Linked DNA regions of Homo sapiens: all the other regions are linked to region 3. The links come from fine-mapping of genetic effects on gene expression. A gene starts in region 3. Each other region holds a variant in brackets. All regions are shown on one strand. Distances are between the middles of the regions.

Region 1 (2,749 bases), 77 kb after region 3:
AGGAAGCCTGACCCTTCCTAAGGCTTGACAAACGTTAGCTATGGTTCTAAGCCTGAACGGACCATCCCAGGATAACCAGATCTCTCATCATTACAACATGCCAGGAATTGAAGTGGGCAAAAAACATCAGGTCAGACATGCTGGCGGGCCAAGGGCTTTGCAGCTTTCCACCAGACACTCAGACCGTCAGAGCTGGGGGCTTGGCAGCCTGCTGGCCAGGAGTTCCCGAACCTGGCTGTGCTTAAAAGAGAGACGAGGAGCTTAAAAGGCAGCAGACCAAAAAGCTCTCCGGGTCATCCTGATGGGTGGCCAGGTTTGTGGACAGCTGAGCTGCTCCAGCTCCCTTACCAAACGGCGGTGGTGGGGAGGTGGAGGCGCAGGGAGAAGTGATCTGTCCGAGTTCCTGAAGTCAGTCCGTGGCCATGCTGGGCCCAGCACTTGCCCTGTGACCCTCAAAGCCCCACCGTCTACCCTTCACTCAAGGGCTTCCTACAGCCGTGAGGATACAAGAGAACGCCTTGTGTCCTTGGAAGCATTTTTGTAATCTAAAATGTAGAAGAGTGCATTTCCTGCCTACATAGTTAAACACTTTCCTTTAGAAGAAAGGCTGGGGCCGGGCACAATGGCTGGCTGGGTGCAGTGGCTCATGCCTGTAATTCCAACATTTTAGGAGGCTGAGGCCGGCAGACTACTTGAGGTCAGGAGTTCGAGGCCAGCCTGGCTGACATGGGGAAACCCCATCTCTACTAAAAATGCAAAAATTAGCCAGGCATGGTGGTATGTGCCTGCAATCCCAGCTACTTGGGAGGCTGAGGCAGGAGAATCACTTGAACCCGGGAGGCAGAGGTTGCAGTGAGCCGAGATAGGGCCACTGCACTTCTGGATGACGGAGCAAGATTCTGTCTCAAAAATTAAATAAATAAAAGAAAAGAAAGTCAACTTCATGAAGTGCTATTTTAGCTGAATCTGAATAGAAGCCTTAACCTTATGGACAGAGAACTCCCTGGCTGGGAGGCTGGGTTGAGACCTTTACATTTGGAGGATTGTTTCCTGCAAATCAGGAAGAGGTGAGCTCAGCCGTCTGTTTTAGAATCCACTCTTTTCAGGAGGAGGGTAAATACCAGTCTGCTGTTTGGAAATGGAGCTTGGGTGTCAAATGACAGTCATTTCTCTTTAATGGCAGACATTTGTTAATGATTATATAAGTGTCCAGAGGTGAGGCTG[C/T]GACAGCCCGGACATCATTGATTTCCTAGAAATATATTTGTACTGAGGACCAGATGGCATTTGGACTGCAAGAGACACCGAGGCTCAGACAAGCAGGTCTTTGCTCCTGCCTCTCTCTCCTCCTGTTGGCCCAGCTGGCAGTGCCAGGAAGGGGCCCCTGTCCGCTGACTCCTGCACTGGTGGTCTCCTCCCCTGGGAGGGAGGGGTAGAGGAAGGGTTCATGGGACACACACAGGCCTCAGGGTCAGTCAGCTTCGGGATGATTCCTGGCTGGGTCACTTCCTCCCAAGTGGCTTTTGGCCAAGTGGGCCTCACTGTCATCACCAGAAAGCGTGGATAATGCCACCTATGTGGTGGAAGGAAGGTGTCCGCCCAGAGCCTGGCAGGCAGTGGGTGTGCCCTGAGTGACAGCAGCTATGGTCACCAGGCCTGGACTCCTCCCTGGCCTGACCTGTTTTGGGGCTGAGATGCTGGCTCACTGCCACGCTGTGCTCTAAAAAAGGAATGTGGTCTCAGGTCCTAGGCGGGGCAGGAAACAGAGACTGTCATTCCCAGCCCACGGGCTCCTCGCAGACCTCAGTCTCCCCGTGTAAGATGAGGGCCAGACGGAGGGTCTCTGGAGCTCTTCCAGCCTCAACAGGCTAAACATTTGAATGACTAGAGGCTTAGACTAGCCATCTCAACTCTGGCTGCTCGTTAAAATCACCTGCTGAGGCCGGGAGCAGTGGCTCACGCCTGTAATCCCAGCACTTTGGGAGGCCGAGGAGGGCGGATCACCTGAGGTCAGGAGTTTGAGACCAGCCTGGTCAAAATGGCGAAATCCCGTCTCTACTAATAATACAAAAATTATTCAGGCGTGGTGGTGGGCGCTGGTAATCCCAGGCACTTGGGAGGCTAAGGCAGGAGAATCGCCTGAACCCAGGAGGTGGAGGCTGTAGTGAGCTGAGATCGTGCCACTGTACTCCAGCCTGGGTGACAGTGAGACTTCGTCTCAAAAAATAAATAAAATTACCTGCTGAGCTCTTGAACCCTACCAGTGGCCCCAGGCCTGCTCCAGAAGCCCCGGGGATGGGCCCCAGCCCTACTCCAGAAGCCCTAGGGCTGGGCCCCGGCCGTGGTATTTGCTGAAGCTCCCCCGGGATTCTGAAGTGCAGCCAGGGGGAAGATCCACTGATAAGAGAAATATCATTTCAGGGCATTGATTAGTTTAGCCTCACGAGGTCTCCTCACTTGACCCTATCCCAGCTATGGGGCTAAGTTAAAAGCAAGACTTTAAAGGCCAGCCAGCAGGACCTGCTCTGCTGCCCTGGTTGGGAAGAAAACAGGTTGGAGGAGGCAGGAGACTTGCCTGGAGTCTGTTAGGGGAAGAGGTCAAGCATAACCTGGGCTGTGGGCCTGGTAGGGCTTCCTTGCACGTGGCCAGAGGGTCCTACTCCCAAGCATACCCACCCTGGGCTGGGAAGGGCAGCTCGCTCCAGGAGGGAATCCACAGTTCTTCCTACCTTTCCCCAGGCTTCTTTCCAAC
Region 2 (2,749 bases), 66 kb before region 3:
TCTGCTGAGCTCAGCCAGTGGGGATCGGGTCATGCTGGATTGCAGAAAGCGGCCACTTAATTGGGGAGCAGGCCGCATTTAAGAGGAAGCTTTTCTGAGGGTGGTGGGATCGGTGGGATATTAAGTGGGGCTTCCTTGGAGGCAGGCGGGGCCTCAGGTTCGGCTGTGTTGGGTCACTCCCTGTCCCGCCCCGGCCTCTGGAGTTTGTGTGGTTTTGTCTCCTCTTTCTTCCTGGATCATTGTGCATGAGGCTGGGAGCCACACCGGCTGCTTAGGCTCCTCCTGCCTCCCAGGCCACCTGCAGGTCACAGGGGCTGATGAAGCCGTGAATCGCTTGGCTCTGTTTGGAATGCTCGTTCCCCGGTGCCATAAAGAAATAGCACTTGAACATAAATTTAATTTACTTAGTAAGGCCATTTTTACTTTCTGCAGAAAGGGTACACTCTCCAGCAGTTTTCCCACGAGAGTTCACCCAACAAAGGACACAGGGTCATTTATAACCTGACACGTCCACCCTACCGCTGTGTCCAGTTTCCGTTGGCTGGAAAGGGACCTCACATTCTCTATTTGTCCCGATTGGCTAGCAACTTAGAACTTTTTTAAAGAGGCAAAGGTAGAGGGGAACAAAGGAAGGAGGAAGTAACTTGTGGAATGTTGAGAAAGGTAAAAACACCTTCAAATAAGGAAGAGGAACAGGCTATGACCTAATGCTTGCTTGGACCAGTATAAGCATGCTAAGGCAAATATTTAGGCTAAATTGCGGGAGCTAAGAACATAACGTACATTGATTTCCTTATTACGGCTAGCAAATATTTAAGAATGTTAGCACAGATCTTTGAATAAATTTTGCCTCTAAGAGAAGTTAGTATTTATTCCTAATTAGACGGGGAGGAAAGTCTTTGAAGAGGAACCTCTGCTTTACTCTGTACAGCTCGGAGCTGCTTGCAGCACTCTGACACCTTCTGTCGGGATCTTTGGAAGACCTGCCTGGATCTCCCGTCTGTGGAAGGATCCAGGTACTTCTTACAACATCTGTGTTAGGGCAGCTGGTGACGGCACCCGGCAAATTCCAGCAACTGCCCTCATTCCACAGAGGCTCCCTCCTGCAAGGCCACTACTGTGACTCTGAGCAGCGGTTCTTCTCATGAATGTGATAGCTCGGTCAGCTCTAAGACTGCAACCTGCAGGGACTTCATGGGGCAACCCTGGGGTATGTGGCCAGTGTCTGTCCTTGGGCAGCCGTAGCCCCTGTCAGGAACAGGGAGTGACTCAGGCACTGGTGTCTTGAGACTGCTACGGTGTCAGGAAACTTCCATAAAATCTAGTG[C/A]GTTTTAAAAAAAGAGGCCAGAGCCGGCCAGGCACGGTGGCTTATTGCCTGTAATCCCAGCATTTTGGGAGACCGAGGCAGGTGGATCACCTGAGGTCAGGGGTTCGAAGCCAGCCTGGCCAACATCGCGAAACCCTGTCTCTGCTAAAAATACAAAATTAGCCAGGCATGGTGGCACATGCCTGTAGTCTCAGCTATTTGGGAGGCTAAGGCAGGAGAATCACTTGAACCTGGGAGGTGGAGGTTGCAGTGAGCGGAGATCGTGCCACTGCATTCCAGCCTGGGCAACAAAAGTGAAACTCTGTCTCCAAAAAAAAAAAAGCCAGAGCCAGCCTTTGCCTCCTATGTCAGAAATGATCATTTGCAGCTGCTTTGCTTTGGGGTAGAAGCCTCAAATCCTGAAACCCTTTACCCTGGGGCAGGTTGTCTTGTGCTGTAAGCAACAGAAACCCATTTAGATCATTTTTAAATAATGAGAATTTCTGTTGGAAGGATGTCGGCTTAGCTCACACAGTGTCTAGGAAGACTGGAAAATGGGTCTCAGAAACACTGCAGGCAGCTTTGTGTGGCAGGATCAATCCAGTTCCTTCTTGGTGACTGCTCAGGGGAACATCCCATTTGCCTTGCATGGTACTGAGCCAGAAGGTCAACTCCAGGCCTGTCTGCCTGTATCCGAGAAAGCAGCAGCTCCCCACAATGAAATGTAGCGTTTTCCAGCTCCGGATCCTTCCGCCATCCTCCCTGAGATCTACCTGCCTTAGGATCTGTGAGATCCACGCACTTTGCTTTTCCTGGGTGTCTGGTTACTGTTCACAAAAGTCCAGCAGTTTGGCCTGGTGTTGTCTTTGTTTTTGACTGAGCATCTCTCATTTCACAAGTATTTATTGCAGCTGCAGCTCTAAGCAATACCAGGCCCAGGGATGGGCGTCAGCACTGCCTTGAGCTGGTGCACAGCACATCCCGGACGGAGGGGCAGGGCCGTCCTGGTGCACACGCAAGCCTGAAACCAGATAGTAATTGATACCAGGGGAGCCGGCAGGGCTTTCTGCTCTACACAGTTAATGTGGGCAAGCTGTCAACAGTAAGGCACTGATGTCATTTCCGTGATGTGTCCAGTTGCAGCTGGAATTGTCCTGAAATGGACAAGGCAGGTTTACTGGCGGGAGACGGTAGAAAGGAAAAATAGCGCATAGAGGGCACCAGGGCCCTGTGACCCTCGTCCGCAAGTGTCTCCTCATACCTCGTGGTTGCGCACCGTGGTACGGGGCCACCCTGAGCGCTGACTCCCGGGCTGTGAAGTGGGAAGAACAGCAGCACTGCAGGACTCTTGTCAGCCTTGTGGTCTGTACGCATGGAAAAGGCCGTCAGCTGTGCATAGCAACTGGAAGCCATGGCTTTTTAGCATAAAGCCCAGTTCTTCGG
Region 3 (2,749 bases):
TTTGCATGTGCGTGGAGACACAGTCTCACTATGTTACCCAAGCTGGAGTGCAAGTGCTATTCACAGACCGATCATGGCATACTACAGCCTCAAACTCCTGGTTTCAAGCAAGTGGCTAAGACCACAAACGTGTGTCAGCGCACCCAGCTCTTTTCATATCATTTTTACTACCTTTTCCCATCCCACGCAAAAAATGCAGAATACAGAAACTTACCCACACAAGCATTGAGGAAGAGCCAATCAGTCTTTTTCATCCTGTTTTTAATTTGCTTTAGTTTTTTAAAGTCTACTTCAAGTTCCTCCTTGCTTCCCACAGCACCAGCCAATTCAATCCTCTGAAAATCCATTTTCACTTCAGAGTCCCGCTTCGTAGCAGGAGGTGATCTCCTTTGGCTATTACCACTACTGCAACTTCCCCTCCATCGAGCTCTGTCTTGCTCATTTATTATTGAAGAAGCCTCTTCAGTCTCTGCCAATTCTATTGCTTCAATGTTATTAGGTCTGGGATGATCACAAACAACACATCTTTTAGCCTTGGCCCAGTTTTCATATGTGCAAACAGAGCAAGTCCAGTGCTGTGTCCTAGTGTTCAGTTTATTTCTATCATTGTATTCCTCACAAGGATCAACAGAAAAAGCAACTGGTCTTGAGCCAGATCCTGAGGACTGAGGAGATTCTGTAGGACTCCTGGTCCTACGTTGGGATAAGCACTGGGTACATCTGATTGCTCTTGGCCAGTTCAAATATGTACACATGTGGCATGACCACTTATTTGCATTTTCCATGCTATACGAAGATTTCACCCTTGGTCTTGCACTAGAGTCTGGACATATCAAAGGACTACTTCCTCCTTCGGTGCTGGAAGGATCCCAATCTCTACCAACATCACTTGAACCACTTTTAAATGGATCTTCTGTAATAATTGTTCCACTAGGTCTTTGGGCACGACACATAGTACACTTGATTGCAGATGGCCAGTTTTCATACGTACAATATTCACAAGCCCACTTAATTCCACGTTCTGACATTGTGCACTTCTTGAAGTGAGCTGTGTCAGGCAGGAAGCTATAAATAATTAGGACATGGTTATTAAAATAACTACATTCCACCTCCAAAAATACGCTGCCCAAAAAGCAAGTCCTTCAACCTACAAAATATAAATTTCTCAAAAGATGCATGCAACATTTCGACATTGAATTATCCTAATTTTCTTTTTTAATTTCCATAGAAACACTGGAGATAAATTCTCAAAGAAAAAATCTTAGACCCTGGGATTTAATAAAACTGAACTTTGGAATGCAAAAGAGATAGGCAGGAGATATAACGAGGTTTGATCTAAGAAGGATGAGATTAACGGGAAGCCACTAATAGAAATGTTTAATTTCAGGGAGGCCATCACATCAATTTAGAAAAGTAACCAATAGTTTAAAGAGACAAAGGTAGAGGAAACAACACAAACTAAAAAATAGCTTAAACACATAACCATTCTCAAATTATGAACACAGATTATGATTCATGAATTCAGAAGATCAAGCAACGTCTATTTTATCATTCTCGCTAAGGGAGAAAAGCAACTTAAAATGCTAATTATCCACTGTTCTTAATTAGCACAGGTAGTAAAGAAACATGTTGAGAAGTAATGGCTACAATTAACAAAGTAACATTATGAAATAGGTAGTTCCTTGATAATCTGTAGCCTCAAAATCTAGTTCTATCTGGAGTAAAAAAAAGAAGACTGTACTGGGGAAAATTAAATCTGTGGAAGGTCACTGAAATAACCAGTAGCATAATCATTCCAATATAATTGTGAATGTTCATAATTAAAATATTTTAAATTTTGAATATTTAAAATATACTCAAAATCTAATTCATGGCCGGGGGCAGTAGCTCAAGCCTATAATCCCAGCATTTTGGGAGGCTGAGGCGGGTAGATCACAAGGTCAGGAGTTCAAGACCAGCCTGGCCAAGATGGTAAAGCCCCGTCTCTATAAAAATACAAAAATTAGCCGTGCATGGTGGTAGGTGCCTGTAATCCCAGCTACTCAGGAGGCTGAGGCAGAGAACTGCTTGAACCCGGCAGGCAGAGGTTGCAGTGAGCTAAGATCGCACCACTGCACTCTAGCCTGGGTGACAGAGTGAGACTCCATCCCCTGCCCCCCAAAAAATCCAATTCATATTTAAAAGATATTCACACTACTTAAAAGATTTCTAGGATTCAACAATGGGCTAACACTACACTATAATGAAGAAAGACTTCATAATTTAATGGCAACTAATTCATAAATGAAGCAACTTACATAACAAATTTAATTTTTTTTTTTTTAATGGCTTGAATTTAGACACTGGCCACTTTTCCTAAATACTTTTATCAACTCAGTATCATCCCAACACCTATTTTTCACCCGGAAAGAGAAAGAAATCCTAGGCAGAGTATAGAAGCTTTGCTCTCTCTTTCTCAGGGATTTTTCCTGAACCTAGAGGGTTAAATCTTTTGTTTGTTTGTTTTTTTGTTGTTGTTGTTTTCATTTTTGTTTTTTTGAGATGGAGTCTTGCTATGTTTTGCCCAGGCTGGAATGCAGTGGAGTGGTGCAATCTAAGCTCACTGCAACCTCCACCTCCCAGGTTCAAGCGATTCTCCTGCCTCAGCCTCCCAAGTAGCCGAGATTACAGGTGCATGCCACCATGCCCGGCTAATTTTTGTATTTTTAGTAGAGATAGGGTTTCAGCATCTTGGCCGGGCTTCTCTTGA
Region 4 (2,500 bases), 45 kb before region 3:
TTTTTAGACATTGATAAAGTCTTCTTTTCTTCACGTGATATTTTATACAAGAACACTTCAGATGTATTAGATGTGACTGATTTTAACAAATCCTATTAGATTTGTATCAACTAGTTACATGTTCTATTCATAGTCTTTTGTGAATCATTGCCTTTTTGTTTAAAAAGATGGCCTATTTTGAGCCTTTGTATAGGTACATTCCTGTTTTTGTGACAAAAGAAAAACTTTAAAATTGTCCCAAACAGAAAAATAATGGCTATCAGAAGTATGTTTTGTTTTAGTGTGAGTTACCGTTACTGTATTTGTTTATTGTAAAGGTGGACATTTAGCGTTCAGTGCAGTTTTCAATAAAAAGTAATTAAAATTTGTTAAGTTCTGAAATTCAAGTACATCTCACTAATGTAAATGTTCTCTACTTGAGATGTTTAAGGCAATTGCATTGTCAATTAGCCAATTTCCAGCTCTTGTTACTACAGGGTTCCATAACCAGACTCAAGACCGCTGACAATTAATTACCTGTGATAACAAAAAGTTTAATTGAAAAATCAAAACCTCACACAAGTCCATCATTATCACGTCATGCCATCCTTAAGATGCAATGGTGGGTTAGTGCTAAATCAATTCAAAAAAAAACAAAGTTGCTCAACTTTTAGAGTTCTGACTTTAATCTACCCCAAAGCAAAATGACCTGGACCTGGTTCAAGGGAGGGAAGTGAACCTTGAAACTGTTTTGCCAATAACCTAACAAACAAAATGATATTTACAAAGAAGTGTTGCAAATAGTCCCATGAGTTAAGAGCTTGATTTAATGGATCTTCTTTTTAAATAGAATTAAACCTTTATACTAAAAGTATTTGCAAGTGTCAATTAAGTCCAACAATTCCAGGTATGAAACTCCCTCTGAGCTCTTCCTTATACTTCCCTTCCCAATTAAAACAAAACAAGAAAATCATGGTGTCTTAAAGCCTTTGGCTTGCCTGGCCTTGTCTGCTCACTCATTTTAAGGTGGTGGCCCCATCCCAACTCTACCATAAAAGTGTCTATTAACACAAGCTCACATGGAGAGAGACGGCGCTCATAGTTACTGACCTATTACCCCAGGGAACAAAAAGGTAGTTTAACGTCTTCGTAACCACTCATCAAAGAGGCAATGAAATATGCGTGAAAAGGAGGCCAAGCGCACACAGAATATCTTACCTTCACGAATATGTGAAGAAGTCTGGGACACGATGAACCTAAGAGTCAAAAACATAAAAAGGCAGGTCTGAATCCATGGTCCACCTGGGTTTTAATTATTAGATCTTGGTCGCCCAAACAAAAATTTATATATATATATATAAATTTGACCCCAAGGAAGAACAAGTCAAAACAAAATGCCACGCTCTGTTTGCTCTAGAAAAAGAACCATCAAGTCCACAGAGTGCAGGTATGACTTACTCTCCAGAGTCAGTCATTAATGTCTGTCACCTAGCCACGTATAATCATCTTTGAAAAAGGACTATATT[C/G]TATCTTGGGACAATAATTATGGCTGTTTTAATAGTTCAAGAGCATAATATAGCATTGATTTACCAAAATTTTTGGCCTTTAACAGCCAGTCTATGAAAACCATTTAGAGCCCCATTCCTGTCTGTAGCCTAGGAAATGGAACCATCTTTAATTCTTTCCCACAGGGAAGAATGCTGCACCTATCACACTATGTGGTCAGGGTCACTGATTGATAATAAATAAATAAATAATAGAGCGCTCAGGGGAAACAACACTCACCAGACCACAACACACAGTAGAAGCTAAGTGCTGAGCGTGTACTCTGGACAACGCTGGCTGCAATGCAGACTGCAATGGCTACATGCTTTTCCCTCTAACAATTCTCTTTGGCTTTTTCAATTGGGAGGGCAGATTTTGCTTAACAGGCAACTAGAACAGGATCTCTGCCCACTAAAAAATTATCCCTATACATAGAGAAATTACTACAGATGCTAAGTAGTCAGAATGCTAACATTTTCTACAAACTTGATTACTTATTGGCCAAAATGAAAGCAAACAGCCAATTTTTAACAACACATTCACCACTTGAAACAAACAGCAGCATTTACATTATATCAAAGATTCATTTCTACAGAATCGTACTAAAAAATCATTTTTCCTGCAAGATTTAGCATGCAGCAAAAAATGATCTTTTCATCCTGGGAACACCTTTTTACTGAGTTTTCGGGGGGAAAGAACTAAAGACATGACAGTTTTGTGGGTATTTTTCTATTTTTAGTATTCTGGCAGCAAATTTGAGGTTGTACACATTTCATTATCAACTAAACAAAACAAGAAGCAAGCAAATACTTTAAGGTTTTCACAGCCTTTTTCATCACAGGGAAGGAAAAAACTGTGTGTGTGTGTGTGTGTGTGTGTGTGTGTGCGCGCGCGCGCGTGCGTGTGTCGTCTTTCCAAATTCCTGGCCACATCAATAGTCTAGAAAGTGCTTATCAGGACACCAAATATTTCTGTG

Alleles and levels. Positions count from the first base shown, and alleles are read on the strand shown. Sizes are in standard deviations (SD) of each study's normalised expression. Not every link is listed here.
With allele T in place of C in region 1, the expression in esophagus mucosa of the gene that starts at base 1,399 in region 3 is lower (small effect, 0.15 SD a copy in GTEx).

The links. PIP is the estimated chance that this variant, and not a neighbour inherited with it, causes the effect.
Region 1: its variant is the best candidate, but not a certain one, in a credible set for the expression of ZRANB1 in esophagus mucosa (GTEx, PIP 0.52).
Region 2: its variant is the best candidate, but not a certain one, in a credible set for the expression of ZRANB1 in whole blood (INTERVAL, PIP 0.59).
Region 4: its variant is the best candidate, but not a certain one, in a credible set for the expression of ZRANB1 in whole blood (TOPMed, PIP 0.84).

What each region holds. Positions count from the first base shown.
Region 1 is chr10:124,863,438-124,866,186 of GRCh38, reverse strand. No RefSeq gene overlaps it. Among named protein-coding and RNA genes, the nearest start is that of ABRAXAS2, 63 kb to the right of the region's middle. RefSeq lists an enhancer at 1,230-1,729. The variant C/T (reference allele first, on the strand shown) is at 1,225.
Region 2 is chr10:125,006,850-125,009,598 of GRCh38, reverse strand. The region is part of intron 3 of CTBP2 (C-terminal binding protein 2); the gene reads left to right. Among named protein-coding and RNA genes, the nearest start is that of MIR4296, 25 kb to the left of the region's middle. RefSeq lists an enhancer at 1,242-1,747. The variant C/A (reference allele first, on the strand shown) is at 1,328.
Region 3 is chr10:124,940,773-124,943,521 of GRCh38, reverse strand. It overlaps ZRANB1 (zinc finger RANBP2-type containing 1), which reads right to left and starts at 1,399. Exons shown (of 9, transcript NM_017580.3): 1 at 215-1,399. The coding sequence starts at 1,028.
Region 4 is chr10:124,986,202-124,988,701 of GRCh38, reverse strand. ZRANB1 (zinc finger RANBP2-type containing 1) reads right to left here. Exons shown (of 9, transcript NM_017580.3): 9 at 513-2,500. CTBP2 (C-terminal binding protein 2) reads left to right here. Exons shown (of 11, transcript NM_001329.4): 11 at 1-2,500. Among named protein-coding and RNA genes, the nearest start is that of ZRANB1, 45 kb to the right of the region's middle. The variant C/G (reference allele first, on the strand shown) is at 1,506.